Linked DNA regions of Homo sapiens. The protein of the gene in region 1 purifies or fractionates together with the protein of each later gene. This does not show direct contact. Each region holds a gene or a part of one and is shown on either strand. Other genes may lie near its edges.

Region 1 (3,620 bases):
AGGAATGGGCTGCCTGGCATCTTACTGCTCAGGCCCTTCCCCTGTTTCAGAGCCAACTATTCCCTCCTCTTTTCACAGAACCAGGAAGGCAAGAACAGGTGCTCAAGGCAAGGCCAGGTCAAAGTGATCATGTATGCCCTGTGGGTAAGGCAGAGCATGGGGCTGAAGGGGGCAGCAGCAGCTCAAGGTCACCCAGCAACAGGGGCTGGGCAGGCAGCTCCAGCAGAGCCACAGCTCACCTGGGGGAGAACTCAGGCTCCTTCCTCTTCCCTCTCCCACTTAGACCTTCTGTGTGGAGCCATTAATAAGTAACTTGGTCATTTCTGAGACTTCCTGAAGTAGGTTTTCCAGACTGTCCAGGCTATATCTTGGGTCTCTCTGGGCCTTGGGGAAAGTGAGGCTCTTTCTCTAATTGGCCTGAATTAACCTGTGAGCCCAGGACCAGGGGAGGGAAGACCAATGCCACTCTGCCACTCTGCTGGCTTTGCCTGGGTTGGGAGCCAAGACTTTGGATCCTGGCTCAGTTCTACTCCTCTCTTTTCCCCTATCTGGGCCTCAGTTTCCTGATCTGTAAAATGAGGGACAGGACTCATGTCATTGCTGCCACCTTAGCTGGGACGCTGCCCAGGGTGGAGAGTGAGTGGGGCGGGGGACAAGAGGTAGGAGCAGGGGTATCTCCCTCCAACAGTTCCTGGGCCAGCCTCCCAGGGTCACCCCAAAGGGCACTGCAGCAGGAATAGGGGCAGGCCTGGGAGGGTAGAATCTGGGAGCTGGCACTGGTCTCTGTACCCTGTCAGCTCAGTGCAGTTCTCTGGGCCCAACATTGCTCTTTGGGGAAGCCAGGGCCAGCAGGGAGGCAGTGAGCACCTGGGAGGGGTGGCAAGTGGCCAGGGGAAAATCCCAGAGAGTGAGCAAAGGAGGATGAAATGTCACATCACATGGACTCCTCGTGGCAGCCCCAACCTCATGCAGAGCTTGTTATCCCCATTTTACAGCAGAGGAAACTGAGGCTCAGAGGGGCTAAGCATAAGTGGCTTGCCCAAGCCACATCTCTGGGAAGTGGCCAAGGTGGGCCTAGAACCCAGTATTCTGATTCCAGATCGCACTCCATCCTGGATGCCAAAACTGTTTTGACATGGTTATTCCATAATTTTTAATTATCCACATTCCTAGAAGGGGCTATTGACCAAGCCATTTAAAACAGGCAATAAATGTATTTCGGTCTGGCTCTGGGATGTGTCTGGGACTTCCTTTTCCTTGGCAACAGCATATCATTCTAAAGAAATTTGTTCAGGCTGATGTTTGGAATGCCCAGGCACAGCCCTATGGAAGCAACTGGGGAGGGTGGGCAGCCTGGGATCTACAGACAAGATTTCCTGTGATACAGATGTCCCCATTTATTGGGAACAGGTCTCCATCGCCCTAACCTCCAGGCCTATCAAACTAAAATCACAGTCCAGGGAGATGCAGGGAGGGGATTTCCCAGGCGTGGTTCTCTCCAACCTCCCTTTTCCGTCTTTTCTCTCTTTATCCCTCCCTCCTGCCTGTGGCTGAGCCTGGGACAAACCATACCTCCAGTGGGCACCTAGTGTCCTTCTCAAGAATGACAGGTGAAAGGAGACAAACAGCAGTGAACAGGACAGAGATGAGACCTGGACAGGGCTTCCTGACCCCTTCCAGCCCTTACTGACCCCTTCTCTTTTTCCCAATCCCCACTGTACACCGGGCACCTTCCTGGCAACCCGTCCCTACATGATTCTTTCTCTGCCTCTATCTCTGTCTCCCCTATCAGATAAACTAGCAAAACTCCCACATCGGCCTCCCAGCAGTGCCCAGTCCCTTCTACCAGGCCACCCCATGTGGGCTGGCAAGACAAGCGTTCCCCAAGCACTGCGCCGGTCACTAGCCACGTCCAGGAACCTGGGTTGAGCGTCTCTGCAGAGCCGAACATGGGGCCAGGCATGGCTTCCACAATGAACAGGCAGAGGCAGATGCCTGGGGAAGCTGGTGGTGGAGCCAGCAGTGATGCTCGCGAGCATGTGGATCTCTGCTAACCCCCGCAGAGGGGTGTTAGAGGCGCATGTTCTAGAGACCGCAGCTGCTCTCCAGTGCTTCCTAGCCTTGCCATTCAACGCTCTGCAGAATCTGGCCTCCTATTCTCGGCTGGCACTCCCCTCTCCAGCCTGGCTGGGTCCGTGGCTCCTTCCTCTCCCCTCCTGCATTTGCACCTTCTGAGTGGAGCCATTAGCGAGTAACTCAGTCACATACCCATACACATGCACCCACATGTGCACGCACACACACTCCTCCCTGGAAAAGCAGCATAGCATAGGGACTATCAAGCCAGAAGACCTTGGTTAGAGTTCAGGCTCTGTCTGCTGCTATCTTAGCTTTTCTCAGCCCGAGTTTACTCACTGGTCAAATGGGCACAACGACAAAGCCTGCTTCATAGCCTTGTCATATGAACCAAGTGACAAACGTTAGCAGTTGTCAGCAGACCGTAGTACTCGCTATCATCCTGGTTTCCTTTCCCATACCTCTGCGCAGCCCCTGCCCCTGTCAGTTTACTGATCCCAGGTCCCGTTCCCCTCAGGACTTTGCTGCAGGATGGATGACTTCACTTTCCTGCAGGATTGAAAGACAATAATGATAATGAGCTAGTTCTTCGAGAGAGTTTTTGCACTTGCCTTGGGGCATCCCTGCTTACGCAAAGTGGTGAGTGAGGTGGTAGAAATGTCATGTCCTGGTACCCGTGTCAGTAGAGGGACCTCTGAGAGTGCAGACAGGGGACTCTCTGGCTATCCCTGAAGTCAGGCCACCTAGGAGGCTGCCTAGTCTGTCTTGTCCAGGGAAAGGGAGGGGAAAGAGAGAGAACTATGATGAGCAGCCTGCTGTTTTATCAGCCCACGGTGTGTGTTAGCATTGCCTCCCCATGACGCACTCTCCCTCCATCTCCTAACAGCTGGCCTTGAGGTTGGTCCCCCTCTCCTCCCCCATGAGTTCTGAGCTGGGAACATGCTGGGGTCATGACTGTCATGATCGGTAATCTCCCCAGCAGATCAGCCTGGAAACAAGAAAGGAGAAAGTAACGAACTGCTCTATCAGCAGAGCCATTCTGATAGAGGATTTAATCAAAGATGGGGCAAGATGAGATGGCTGAGGGCCAAGGCCAAGAGCCAAGGGGGTCAGGGGCAGAAGCTCTGGGAAGACAGCCTGAGTGATCACTGGGGCCCTCCTCTTTTTTTTTCAGTGTGAAACTCAGAGAGGCCTTTCCCCCTCCCCTCTCTCAGCTCCCACCTTTCCAGGTCCAGCAGCCACACTGGAGGCTGATGGGGTGGGGGGCTCTCTCCCTTTTCATAATCTGAGAAAGTTCCTCTACAACCTCCAGAACCTGCCTGCTGCCCAATCTCTCCTCTCTGACATTAGACTTTCAGACTGGTCTCAGAAAATACAAGTCTTTATCCTTTCTCTGAGAGTCTGGTTATTGGGCAGAGTGTCCCAAAAAAGACCTTGACAGAGCCTTAGACACTCCATCCAATCATTCATTCATTCACTGATAGGGTAGCAGGCCCTCCCCCTGCCTGCTGTGGGCTTTTCTATTATCTGAAAAAGGGGAAGAT
Region 2 (3,620 bases), on another chromosome or scaffold:
ACACAATCCTTGCTCACTGCAACCCCTGCCTCCGGGGTTCGAGTGATTGTTGTGCCTCAGCCACCTGAATAGCTGGGATTACAGTACGTGCCACCATGCCTGACTAATTTTTTTTTTATATTTTTTAGTAGAGATGGGGTTTTGCCATGTTGTCCAGGTTGGTCTCGAACTCCTCACCTCAACTGATCTACCTGCCTCGGCCTCCCAAAGTGCTGGGATTACACGTGTGAGCCACATATCCAGCCACAAATCAGTATTGTGTGCCATCATAGTGGATCTGATGAGCTTAAGGTTCAGTTTCTTCACTATGCTTATATGCTCACTCTAAGAAGAGGTTGGCAAACTTTTTCTTTCCCTTTTTTTTTTTTTTTTTTGAGGCAGGCTGGAGTGTAGTGGCACCATCACAGCTCACTGCAGCCTCCACCTCTCTGGACTCTGGTACTCTGGTGATCCTCCCACCCCTGCCTCCCGAGTAGCTGGAACCATAGGCACATGACACTACTCCCGACTAATTGTTGTATTTTTCTATAGAGACAGGATTTTGCCATGTTGCCCAGGCTGGTCTTGAATTCCTGGGCTCAAGCCATCCACCTGCCTCGACTTCCCAAAGTGTTGGGATTACAGGCATAAGCCACCATGCCTGGCCAACTTTTTCTATAAAAGGCCAGACAGTAGCTTTGTGGGTCATATGGTCTCCTCAACTCTGCTGTTACTGCACAAAAACAGCCTTAGACACAGGAACAGCTACAGTAGCTATATCCCAATAGAACTTTTGTTATCAACACTAAACTTTGAATTTCATATAATTTTCACTTGTCACAAGATATTCTTTTGGTTTGTTTCAAACATTAAAAATGTTAAAACCATTCTTAGCCAAACAATGTCAACAGGTTGATTTTTACTCCTAATGCAGAGTAGATATTGGTTCTTCCTTCACCGTCATCCTAGATTCCCTTATCCTTTTTCTTGGATCAGATCTCCTGTTTCCTGAGTTCACATATTCCTCATTTTGTGGTTTACCCCCTCAGTTTGATGGTGTACTTCCTTTAGTATTTTCCTGAGAGAATGTATGAAGAAGTGAGAATTTTTTAGATTTGTAACCCTTAAATGCCTTCAATCTTGTCTCTCATTTTTGACATTATGGGCATGTAATTCAAGAATAGAAATTCTAGGCCGGGCGCAGTGGCTCACACCTGTAATCTAAGCACTTTAAGAGGCCGAGGCGGGTGGATCACTTGAGGTCAGGAGTTCGAGACTAGCCTGACCAACATGGTGGAATCCCGTCTCTACTAGAAATACAAAAATTAGCTAGGCGTGGTAGCAGGCGCCTGTAATCTCAGCTACTTGGGAGGCTGAGGCAGGAGAATTGCTTGAACCTGGGAGGCGGAGGTTACAGTGAGCCGAGATCACGCCATTGCACTCCAGCTTAGGCAACAAGAGTAAAACTCCATCTCAAAAAAAAAAATAAATAAAAAGAGAATTCTAGCTGGATGCAGTTGCACATGTCTGCAGTCCCAGCTACTTGTGAGGCTGAGGCAGAACAATCACTTGAGGCCAGGAGTTTGAGGCTGTAGTGCACTATGATTGCACCTGAGAAAGAGGCCAGGTGCAGTAACTGACGCTTGTAATCCCGCTACTTTGGGAGGCTGAGGCAGGTGGATTGCTTGAGCTCAGGAGTTCAAGACCAGCCCGGGCACCATGGCAAAACCTTGTCTATAAGAAATACAAAAATTAACTGGGCGTGGTGGTCGAGTCTGTAGCCCCTGCTACTCGGGAGGTGGAGGTGGGAGGATGGCTTGGGCTGGGGAGGCAGAGGTTGCATTGAGCCAAGATCATGCCTCTGCACTCCAGCCTGGAAGACAGAGCCAGACTCAGTCACCAAAAAACCAAAAACAAAAACAAAAAAAAAATGGAAATTATTTTCTCCTAAGATTTTGAAGGCATTGCTACATTTAAATCTAGTTATTGGCTGGGCGTGGTGGCTCATGCCTGTAATCTCAACACTTCGAAAGGCCAAGGCAGGCGGATCACCTGAGGTCAGGAGTTCAAGACCAGCCTGGCTAACATGGTGAAACCCCATTTCTACTAAAAATACAAAAAAATTAGCCGGGCATGGTGGCGTGAGCCTGTAATCCCAGCCACTCGGGAGACAGGCAGGAGAATCGCTTGAATCCTGGAGGCAGAGGCTGCAGTGAGCCAAGATCGTGCCATTGCACTCCAGCTTGTGTAACAAGAGCAAAACTCCATCTCAAATAAATAAATAAGCCTAGTTATCTAGTTTTCATTTGCTGTGGAGAAGTCTGAATTTCTTCTGTTTCATAAACTTTTGTATTTACCATTTTTTTCTTCCTCTCTATAAACTGATGTTTGGTTCACCCCGATACATTGAAACTTCACAGTGATGTGCCTTAGTATTGGTCTATTTCATGTACTGTGTTGGGTACTTAGTAGGCCCTGTCAATCTGGTAACCCGTGTCCATTAGTCCTGTAAATTTTTCTTGAATTCTTTAATTGATGATTTCTTCCTCTCTCTTTTCTCTGTTCCTTCATTTTGGAACTCTCATTAATCTTCTGTTGGACCTCTGATTTTCTGACCTTTTGTTTTCTATTTTGTACCTCTGTCTTTTTGTTACTTTATAAGAGAATTCCACAGTTTTATCTTTTCTATCAAAGTCCAGTCATGAAAACAGAAACCAGGCCAGGTTCGGTGGCTTACGCCTGTAATCCCAGCACTTCGGGAGGCTGAGGTGGGTGGATCATTCGAGGTCAGGAGTTCCAGACCAGCCTGGCCAACATGATGAAACCCCATGTCTACAAAAAATATATAAAAATTAGCCAGGTGTGTTGGTGCGCCTGTAACCCCAGCTACTTGGGAGGTTGAGACATGAGAATCACTTGAACCTAGGAGGTGGAGGTTGCACTGAGCTAGGATCAAGCCACTGCAATCCAGCATGGGTGACAGAGTGAGACTCTGTCTCAAAAAAAAATAATAATAATAATAGTAAATCCCTTCTTTTACTATGTTTTTGGTGGAGTTTGCAAAGAGGAAAAGGAAAACCTGATATATGTTTTCAGTCTGTCGTCTTGGTACAGAAACCATCAAGGCTTTCTGTTTTCAGAATTACAGCTTTTTATAAGGGTGAAAAAAATGGAAATGTCCATCAACAAGGAATTATCTAGATAAACTGGTACAACCACAAAATGAAATCATAGCCACTAAAACTAATGCTATGAAAGAATAATACCATAAAAATGTTCTTAATATGTTAAGTGAAAAAAATTAAAAACCACATGTACAAAATGATTTTTAAGTATATATATATTTTATATGGAAACAGTATATACTAGCACATAGTAACAATATATATCAGCGAAGAAAGGAATACACCAGAAAGTTAAGCATGCTTATTTCTGAGTGGTGAAATGATAGAAAATGTGTAATCAGATTTTTTAAAATGCCTAAAGACAAAAGTTCCCAAGGAGTACCTAAGATCAAGCAAGTCTTCTTGCTGGGGCCTCATTATCTTACTATCTTCCCTGATTGGGTATGAGTATCACCCTGTTCTGCAGGGTTACCAGGTTCGAGCCTGTGTTCAAGGTGGTCTGAAATGTTACACAAA
Region 3 (3,620 bases), on another chromosome or scaffold:
CCCTAACATAAACTGATAATGCCACTCATCATTGCTTTAAAGATAAGGACAAGAGTGGCAGGTAGGGCATCAATATCAATCTTTAATTTGTGATTCTGTTCATGTTGAAACAAATGATGGCTACACAATTTTTCGAATGAAAATGTTTTGTGGTCTGTGATCTACAGAATAAACCAATAGGTGAACTAGGAATCCTCTCAGTAGTGATTTGTTATTTTGCTTAATTAGTAAGTCAGAGATTCTGAACACAAGTGCCCATGCAGCTACTTAACTCTAAGAGAGAATTGTCATGTAGAAAAACAGGCCTGGTGTTACCAGATATTCTGACTTTTCCAGAAAAGCTGGAAATCTAGATTTTTCTGTGAAATATCTGGATTTTCATTTTTTTTTTTTTTTTTGAGACAAGGTCTTGCTGTATTGCCCAGGCTGAAGTGCAGTGGCACCATCATGGCTCACTGGAGCCTCAACCTCCTGGCCTCAGCTTCCCCAGTAGCTGGGAATACAGAAGCGCGCAATCATGCCTGGCTAATTTTTTAAAAAAATTTTTGTAGAGATGAGGTCTCACTATGTTGCCTAGGCTGGTCTCAAACTCCTGAGCTCAAACGATCCTCTTGCCTTGGACTCCCAAAGTGCTGAGATCATAGGCATGAGCCACTGCGCCCAGCCTTGGATTTTTATGTGTAACCAACAAACTCAGCACTTTTTTTATTTTTGAGACGGAGTCTCGCTGTCACCCAGTCTGGAGTGCAGTGGTGTGATCCCGGCTCACTGCAACCTCCGCCTCCCAGGTTCAAGCAATTCTCGTGCCTCAGTCTCCTGAGTAGCTGGGATTACAGGTGCATGCCACCACATCTGACTAGTTTCTGTATTTTTTGTAGAGACGGGGTTTCACCATGTTGGCCAGGCTGGTTAGTCTCAAACTCCTGACTTCAAGTGATCTACCGGCCTCAGCCTCCCAAAGTGCTCGGATTACAGGCGAGAGCCACCTCACCTGGCCAACTCAGCACTTTTAAAACACTTTGGGGTACATCAAAACGTATCTATAACCTGGATATAACATATACACTGTGAATTTACAACCTGTATTATGGTTTCCTTATGGAAGAAAAACATTAAATTAAAAAAATGACCTCTCCCCGCAAATCTGAGTCAAAACAGTAAGAAAAGCCTTACTTGTATTTAACTTGATGTTCCAGTACTTGAAAGCAGAAAAACTTCACATGATCATCACTGAAAAAGAAAAAAAGAAAATGAGATAAGCAGAATATGAACTGAGGAAAACAAATCAAAGGCAAAATAGTAATGAGTAATACAGCAGAAAAGTTTCTCAAACTAGACCTTTGGCTTGTTTCATACTTACTGGTCTCATTTTATGACATTAAAATCCATTTACTTAAAAAGCTATGAGAACTCTAAATATTACACAATATTTAAAATTTCCATTAAATCTGACAAGCAAACTAACCAAGATATTAAGATGCACCTTGAATACAATGCTTTGTAAGCAGCAAACCATCCCTCTAAATTCCAGATATTAAGATTCCTGGAACAGTCCCTTCATTTTACAATAACAGGTTAGGTGTAAAATTACAAATGGCAGAACAGACAGAGTCTGAGTGAAAGTAAAGATGGTCGTCCAAGTCCTGCTTAAAATTCAACCCCAGTAGTTCTATTGTAGCCAAATCCAAAACAAGCAGGGCCACATGGACTGTCAGTCCAACTTCAAAGTTTCGTACAGGACACTAAATTACAAATATGGTACCCTTGCTTATACAAGATGGGGGCAAAAGTCAACACACCAATTACCCACTTCCAACTGTCTTTCTAGGGGAGTGGCAGAGTTGCAGTTAGCCAGCTATAAACACTGACAAAGATCTTCTAGAGACCAACAATCTGCCAATGAAGTGAGTATAAGAGAGTTCCTATTTCCGTAAAAAGTTAGTTGAATGCTTTAGAAAGATTTCATAGAAAGCCACACTGCAGAAGGAAAAAATCTTGTACATATTTGACATGGCCTATATAACCAGAAGACTTGAGAGGCGGGGACAAATATCTTAAAAATCTATGGATCGTCACTCATTGTACAGAGACCCATGCTAGAAATTGTAGAGGATGGGTTACAGGTGTGACCAACCTACGAATAAAGTGAATGCTAGTTAGTATACAAAGATAAAGACTGTGGTCCAATATTAAAAGATTGGTCACCGAATGATTATATACCTTAAGTTAAAATTAAAAATTAAGATATAGGCCGGGTACGGTGGCTCACGCCTGTAATCCCAGCACTTTGGAAGGCCGAGACGGGCGGATCACAAGGTCAGGAGATCGAGACCATCCTGGCCAACACAGTGAAACCCTGTCTCCACCAAAAAGAAATACAAAAAAATTAGCCGGGCATGGTGATGGGCACCTGTAGTCCCAGCTACTCAGGAGGCTGAGGCAGGAGAATGGCAAGAACCCAGGAGGCGAAGCTTGCAGTGAGCCTAGATTGCGCCACTGCACTTCAGCCTGGGCGACAAAGCGAGACTCCATCTCAAGAAAATAATAATAATAATAATAAAATAAATAAATAATTTTAAAATTAAGATATATATCATTTACAATCACCGTCTTTACCAAAGTTTTAGGAAAGCAGTTATCACCCTCAATCATAAGATAAGGAAGTTTTTACTGCACTTTATTCCAGCTGGGATCTGGTGACAGGTACACAATATATACCAAAGGATGGTTTTACTGAAAAGTTAATTCTGAAATGGCCAAACTGGGTTTACTACTTTTCTCATTTCTACATGGAATGACTATATGTTAATGGCTTTGCAAAAAAAAAAAAAAGTCATAAAATGTTTTTATGAAAACACTTTCCAAATACAGGTAAATTTCACAGTCCTGTCATGTCCACAGAAATTTAAATTGTCATGCAAATTTTGTTTTTAATTACCTGTATGTCCTCTGGGCTAGAGCTTCTGCACACACCTGCCAGGCATCTGGGGAAATTTTTAACTGCTCAAAATAGGCCAGGGCCTATAAGATTGCAAAACAAAAAAATGCATTTAGAATAAACAATCTCAATGCCCTGCTAATATAAACAAAATATTCTGAGAGTTGCAAACCTATAACAAATCAGTAAACTTAATAGAAAAACAGTTAAAACATTAAATGCAGGCTTCCGAATATATGCAACTTGGGGTCATTCCTAAAAATAGGTTAAATAAATATAAATTCCATCAGTTAGATAATCAAACCTGTTTTCTTACAGCAGCAACAACACAAAAATGCCCCGCAGCCTTCATGGGGTTATTATGAAGAATGAGAGCAAGTGCTTTGTCAAGTGCCATACTACTGAGAAATTGCAGAGGATGAGTTAAGGGTGTGATCATTTTATAATATGCAATTATAAAATGGCACGTGAAGGGCACTTTTCCTATTTAATAGCACATCTGCTATTAAAGCGGTGATTATAAAAGATAAAACATACTGTGTACCTTATCTGATCTACTGTTACACAGGAGAGTATTTCAAGTCTTTAATTATATCATGTAAGTTCCCTAAAGAGATTAAAATTGGAGTACAAGTGCATGATATGAATTTTGAAAAATATTAAGTAACTGAAAAGGTCAAAG
Region 4 (3,620 bases), on another chromosome or scaffold:
ATAAATCTTTCACCCTGACTTCTCAAGTGTTAACCACTTTCCCACATTTACCTTACCATTTTCTTGAATTATATACATGTGACTATACTTTTTTCTGACCTATTTATAGAAAAAGTTGCAGACATGATGCCGTATTACTACCCTTTAATGCATCAGTGTGTATTTTTTCAAAATAAGGTTAGTCTCCTGTGTATCATAGTACAATCACCATCAGAAATTTAACATCAATACAATATTATCATCTAACTCCAGGTCTCATTCAAATTTTGCCAGTTGCCCTAGTGATGTCCTTTTATGTGTTGAATTTAGTTGCCATGTCTCAACTTGGAAGTTTCTTAGTTTTTCCTTGTTTTATATGACCTTACTTTTTTGAGTACAAGTCAGTCAGTTTGAGTTTGTGTTGTGTTCCTTCATAATTACATTCAGCTTATTCATTTTTGACAGGACTGGCACAGAAATGTTGCTGTGCTGTACTTACTGTATCATTACATTAGGAAGCATACTACAGTATCAATTTGTGTCATTATTGGAGATGCTCACTTCTATGAGTTGGTTAATACAATGTCAGCCTGGTTTCTTCAGTGTACAGTTAATTATTAACTTTTTGTGGAAAAATACTTTCAGATTGCTACTACAAAAGAGTGCTTTCCCTTCTGCATTTTTTTATTTTTTAAAAATTATTCACTTATATTAGTGTAGATTCATGGATTCCTATTTTATTCAGAGGATTATAGTCTTTATTATTATTTGGTTTGATGCTCAGATTGTTCCCAACATGGCCAATGGGACCTCTTTCAAGATGACCCGTGTGTCCTTTGGACATGTCCCATGCCCTTTTGACATTCTCTGAGCACTTCCTATTTGATAGAACAAGATGTTCCAGGCTGATCTTGGATGATTCTTGTCCATCCCAGGTGTCAGTCATTTCTCCAGGAAGTCCTGGTTCCTTTTAGTGGAGAATAGTATTGAAACGAACACAGGTATACTAGGTATGCTTTTCACCACTTGGATAGGAAATACATAGCCACATACACACACCCCCACACACAAGCACACGTCTCTGTACATTTCTAAAATGTCTGTTTCTCTATATTGAATTACCATGACATCACACTAGTTTCTTCAGTTCCAGTTCAGTACCACAAGGTTTATTTTTAACTTTCTGTATTTGTAATTCCCTTCTCCAACAGTGTTGGAACCTGCTCACATTTTGCTCAGTGTATTTACTTATTTGCTTGATTCTCAGTGTATGTAATCAGTCTCCTGGCTGAGCCAGTTTGTTACACTGCGCCCTGCCCTCACTCCAACTGGTCACACAGGCTGAGAAAGTTTGGGTTGATGAAGGCAAAGGGAAAGGAAAGGATATCAGCTGGGCATAGTGGCATGTGCCTATAATCCCAGCTACCTGGGAGGCTGAGGCAGGAGGATTGCTTGTGCCCAGGAGTTTGAGTCCAGTCTGAGTAACATAACAAGACCCTGTCTCTTAAAAAAAAAAATGGCTGGGCGTGGTGGCTCACGCCTGTAATCCCAGTAGTTTGGGAGGCCGAGGTGGGTGGATCACGAGGTCAGGAGTTTGAGACCAGCCTGACCAACATGGTGAAACCCTGTCTTTACTAAAAATACAAAAATTAGCCAGGTGTGGTGGCGTGTGTCTGTAATCCCAGCTACTCAGGAGGCTAAGGCAGGAAAATCTCTTGAACCCAGGAGGCGAAGGTTGCAGTGAGCCAAGATCATGCCACTGCACTCCAGCCTGGGCAACAGAGCAAGACTCCATCGCAAAAAAAAAAAAAAAAAAAAAAAAATATATATATATATATATATATATATTTTATATATATATATAAAATTTAACGTGTACAGAAAGATCTTACCATAGATATTTTACAACAACTTATTTTTAAGACTTCTTCAAGCCTGAAACTATAGTACGGCTTCTGAGTTTTCGTTCTTTTAGATTTTTAAATACTGAATATTAGATTTAATAATTAAGTTGTTAATGGAATATTTGACATATTGTCTGGGAAAATTTTAGAATTTCACATATTAATACATATTGTGCTATCTATAATTAAAATTAAATATTGTATGTTTTTTTCCTTTAAGTTAGTAGGGCTGTTTGGGAAGAAATGGTGAATGCCTGCTGGTGTGGTCTTCTTGCTGCACTCTCACTCCTTCTTGATGCCAGGTATTAAGTCTTTGTAAGTTTTATATTGAACTGTGTCAGTTAAAAAAAACACATTAAAATGGTTTACTTACATTTGTCCCTAGAATTATTTTCTAATATTAGTTTTTTATATGTGTGAAACATTATTCTTTTTCCCTCATCCCCCTTCCTCATTCTGTCCTTGCCCTGCCCCAAGCCACCAGAATTGTCATGATGTTTTAATGGAAAATACAGTCCTAAAATTACAGAATGCCTTTTTCATTTCAAGACTTACAACTACTTTTGCAATTATGATTATATTTAATTTCTTTGTTCTTTTTCTTTAGGATTTAAAAATTTACTGGTTTCAAAATGCTTGATATTTTAAGCTAAATCTTTATGTTCTTGGTCATTTTCTTCAGTAATAAATACATGTATTATTATTCATTGCTTTTACCCAGTTCAAATTTTTGAGGTTATGTTAATAGATTAAAATTCCTTCTTAAGTATATTGGTAATATTTTGACAATATTTTTGTATAGATTTTCTTAAAATGTCACTGAATACTTAATTCCACATCATGCTTTACAATGTAATTAAAAATAAGTTAATCAGATTAAATAAAATACTTTCTTTTCAGCACAGATGAAGCTGCCACTGAGAATATTTTAAAAGCTGAACTGACTATGGCTGCTCTTTGTGGAAGACTGGGCCTTGTAACTTCAAGAGATGCCTTTATAACTGCAATATGCAAAGGTTCCCTGCCTCCCCATTATGCTCTTACTGTATTGAATACCACCACTGCAGCTACACTTTCCAACAAATGTAAGACAGGCTTACTCAAAATTCTCTCTATGTAGTGGGATGATATGGTGTAGACAGAAGATTATAAACATCTGAGTTTAAGTCTCTGCTTTTTCACATACTGACTGTGTGACCTTGGGGAAATTAATGTCCCTGAGAGCTCTTTAAAAATATGGGGTGGGGGGTGGGGGGTGGGCATGGGATATCCAAAAATCCAGAATCTAAAATGCTGCAAAATCTAAAACTTGTTGAGCACCAACATGACAAAGGAAAGGCTCATTGGATAAGTATATAATGTGAATAGGTATATAATGCAAACATAAGTATTTACAAATATATTATGCAAATAAATGCATAAGTATATATAATATAAATATTCAAAAATCTGAAATCGGAAACAGTTGTGATCCTAAGCATTTCGGATAAGGGATACTCAACTTGTAATACCAATTTTAAACAATAATTGTGAGAGGAAAATAAGATAAATCTGGAAGTCCTTTGTAAACTATGAGATACCATTGAAATGGTGATTGTTATTTTTTTTTAATGGAACTAGTAGAACAGTAATGTTTGTAACCACTTAGGTTAAACTTACATTCAAAAATTTATTTTCTTGTTGAATTCTTTAAGAATACTTGTTTGTTACATGTAATATAAATTTCAGTGTAATATT

What was found. The genes of interacting proteins can lie anywhere in the genome.
Region 2: the proteins of SLC60A1 (region 1) and MMS19 purify together in Homo sapiens (affinity purification with mass spectrometry; 2 studies listed by BioGRID and IntAct, with this or other methods). This does not show direct contact.
Region 3: the proteins of SLC60A1 (region 1) and XPOT purify together in Homo sapiens (affinity purification with mass spectrometry; 2 studies listed by BioGRID and IntAct, with this or other methods). This does not show direct contact.
Region 4: the proteins of SLC60A1 (region 1) and MON2 purify together in Homo sapiens (affinity purification with mass spectrometry; 2 studies listed by BioGRID and IntAct, with this or other methods). This does not show direct contact.

What each region holds. Positions count from the first base shown.
Region 1 is NC_000001.11:205,575,455-205,579,074, forward strand, and holds part of SLC60A1 (major facilitator superfamily domain-containing protein 4A), read left to right. Parts: intron 1-3,620.
Region 2 is NC_000010.11:97,470,887-97,474,506, reverse strand, and holds part of MMS19 (MMS19 nucleotide excision repair protein homolog), read left to right. Parts: intron 1-3,620. UniProt on the Homo sapiens protein: Key component of the cytosolic iron-sulfur protein assembly (CIA) complex, a multiprotein complex that mediates the incorporation of iron-sulfur cluster into apoproteins specifically involved in DNA metabolism and genomic integrity.
Region 3 is NC_000012.12:64,414,308-64,417,927, reverse strand, and holds part of XPOT (exportin-T), read right to left. Parts: intron 3,022-3,620; coding exon 2,939-3,021; intron 1,231-2,938; coding exon 1,174-1,230; intron 1-1,173. UniProt on the Homo sapiens protein: Mediates the nuclear export of aminoacylated tRNAs. In the nucleus binds to tRNA and to the GTPase Ran in its active GTP-bound form. Docking of this trimeric complex to the nuclear pore complex (NPC) is mediated through binding to nucleoporins.
Region 4 is NC_000012.12:62,532,742-62,536,361, forward strand, and holds part of MON2 (protein MON2 homolog), read left to right. Parts: intron 1-2,103; coding exon 2,104-2,185; intron 2,186-2,783; coding exon 2,784-2,968; intron 2,969-3,620. UniProt on the Homo sapiens protein: Plays a role in regulating membrane trafficking of cargo proteins. Together with ATP9A and DOP1B, regulates SNX3 retromer-mediated endosomal sorting of WLS away from lysosomal degradation.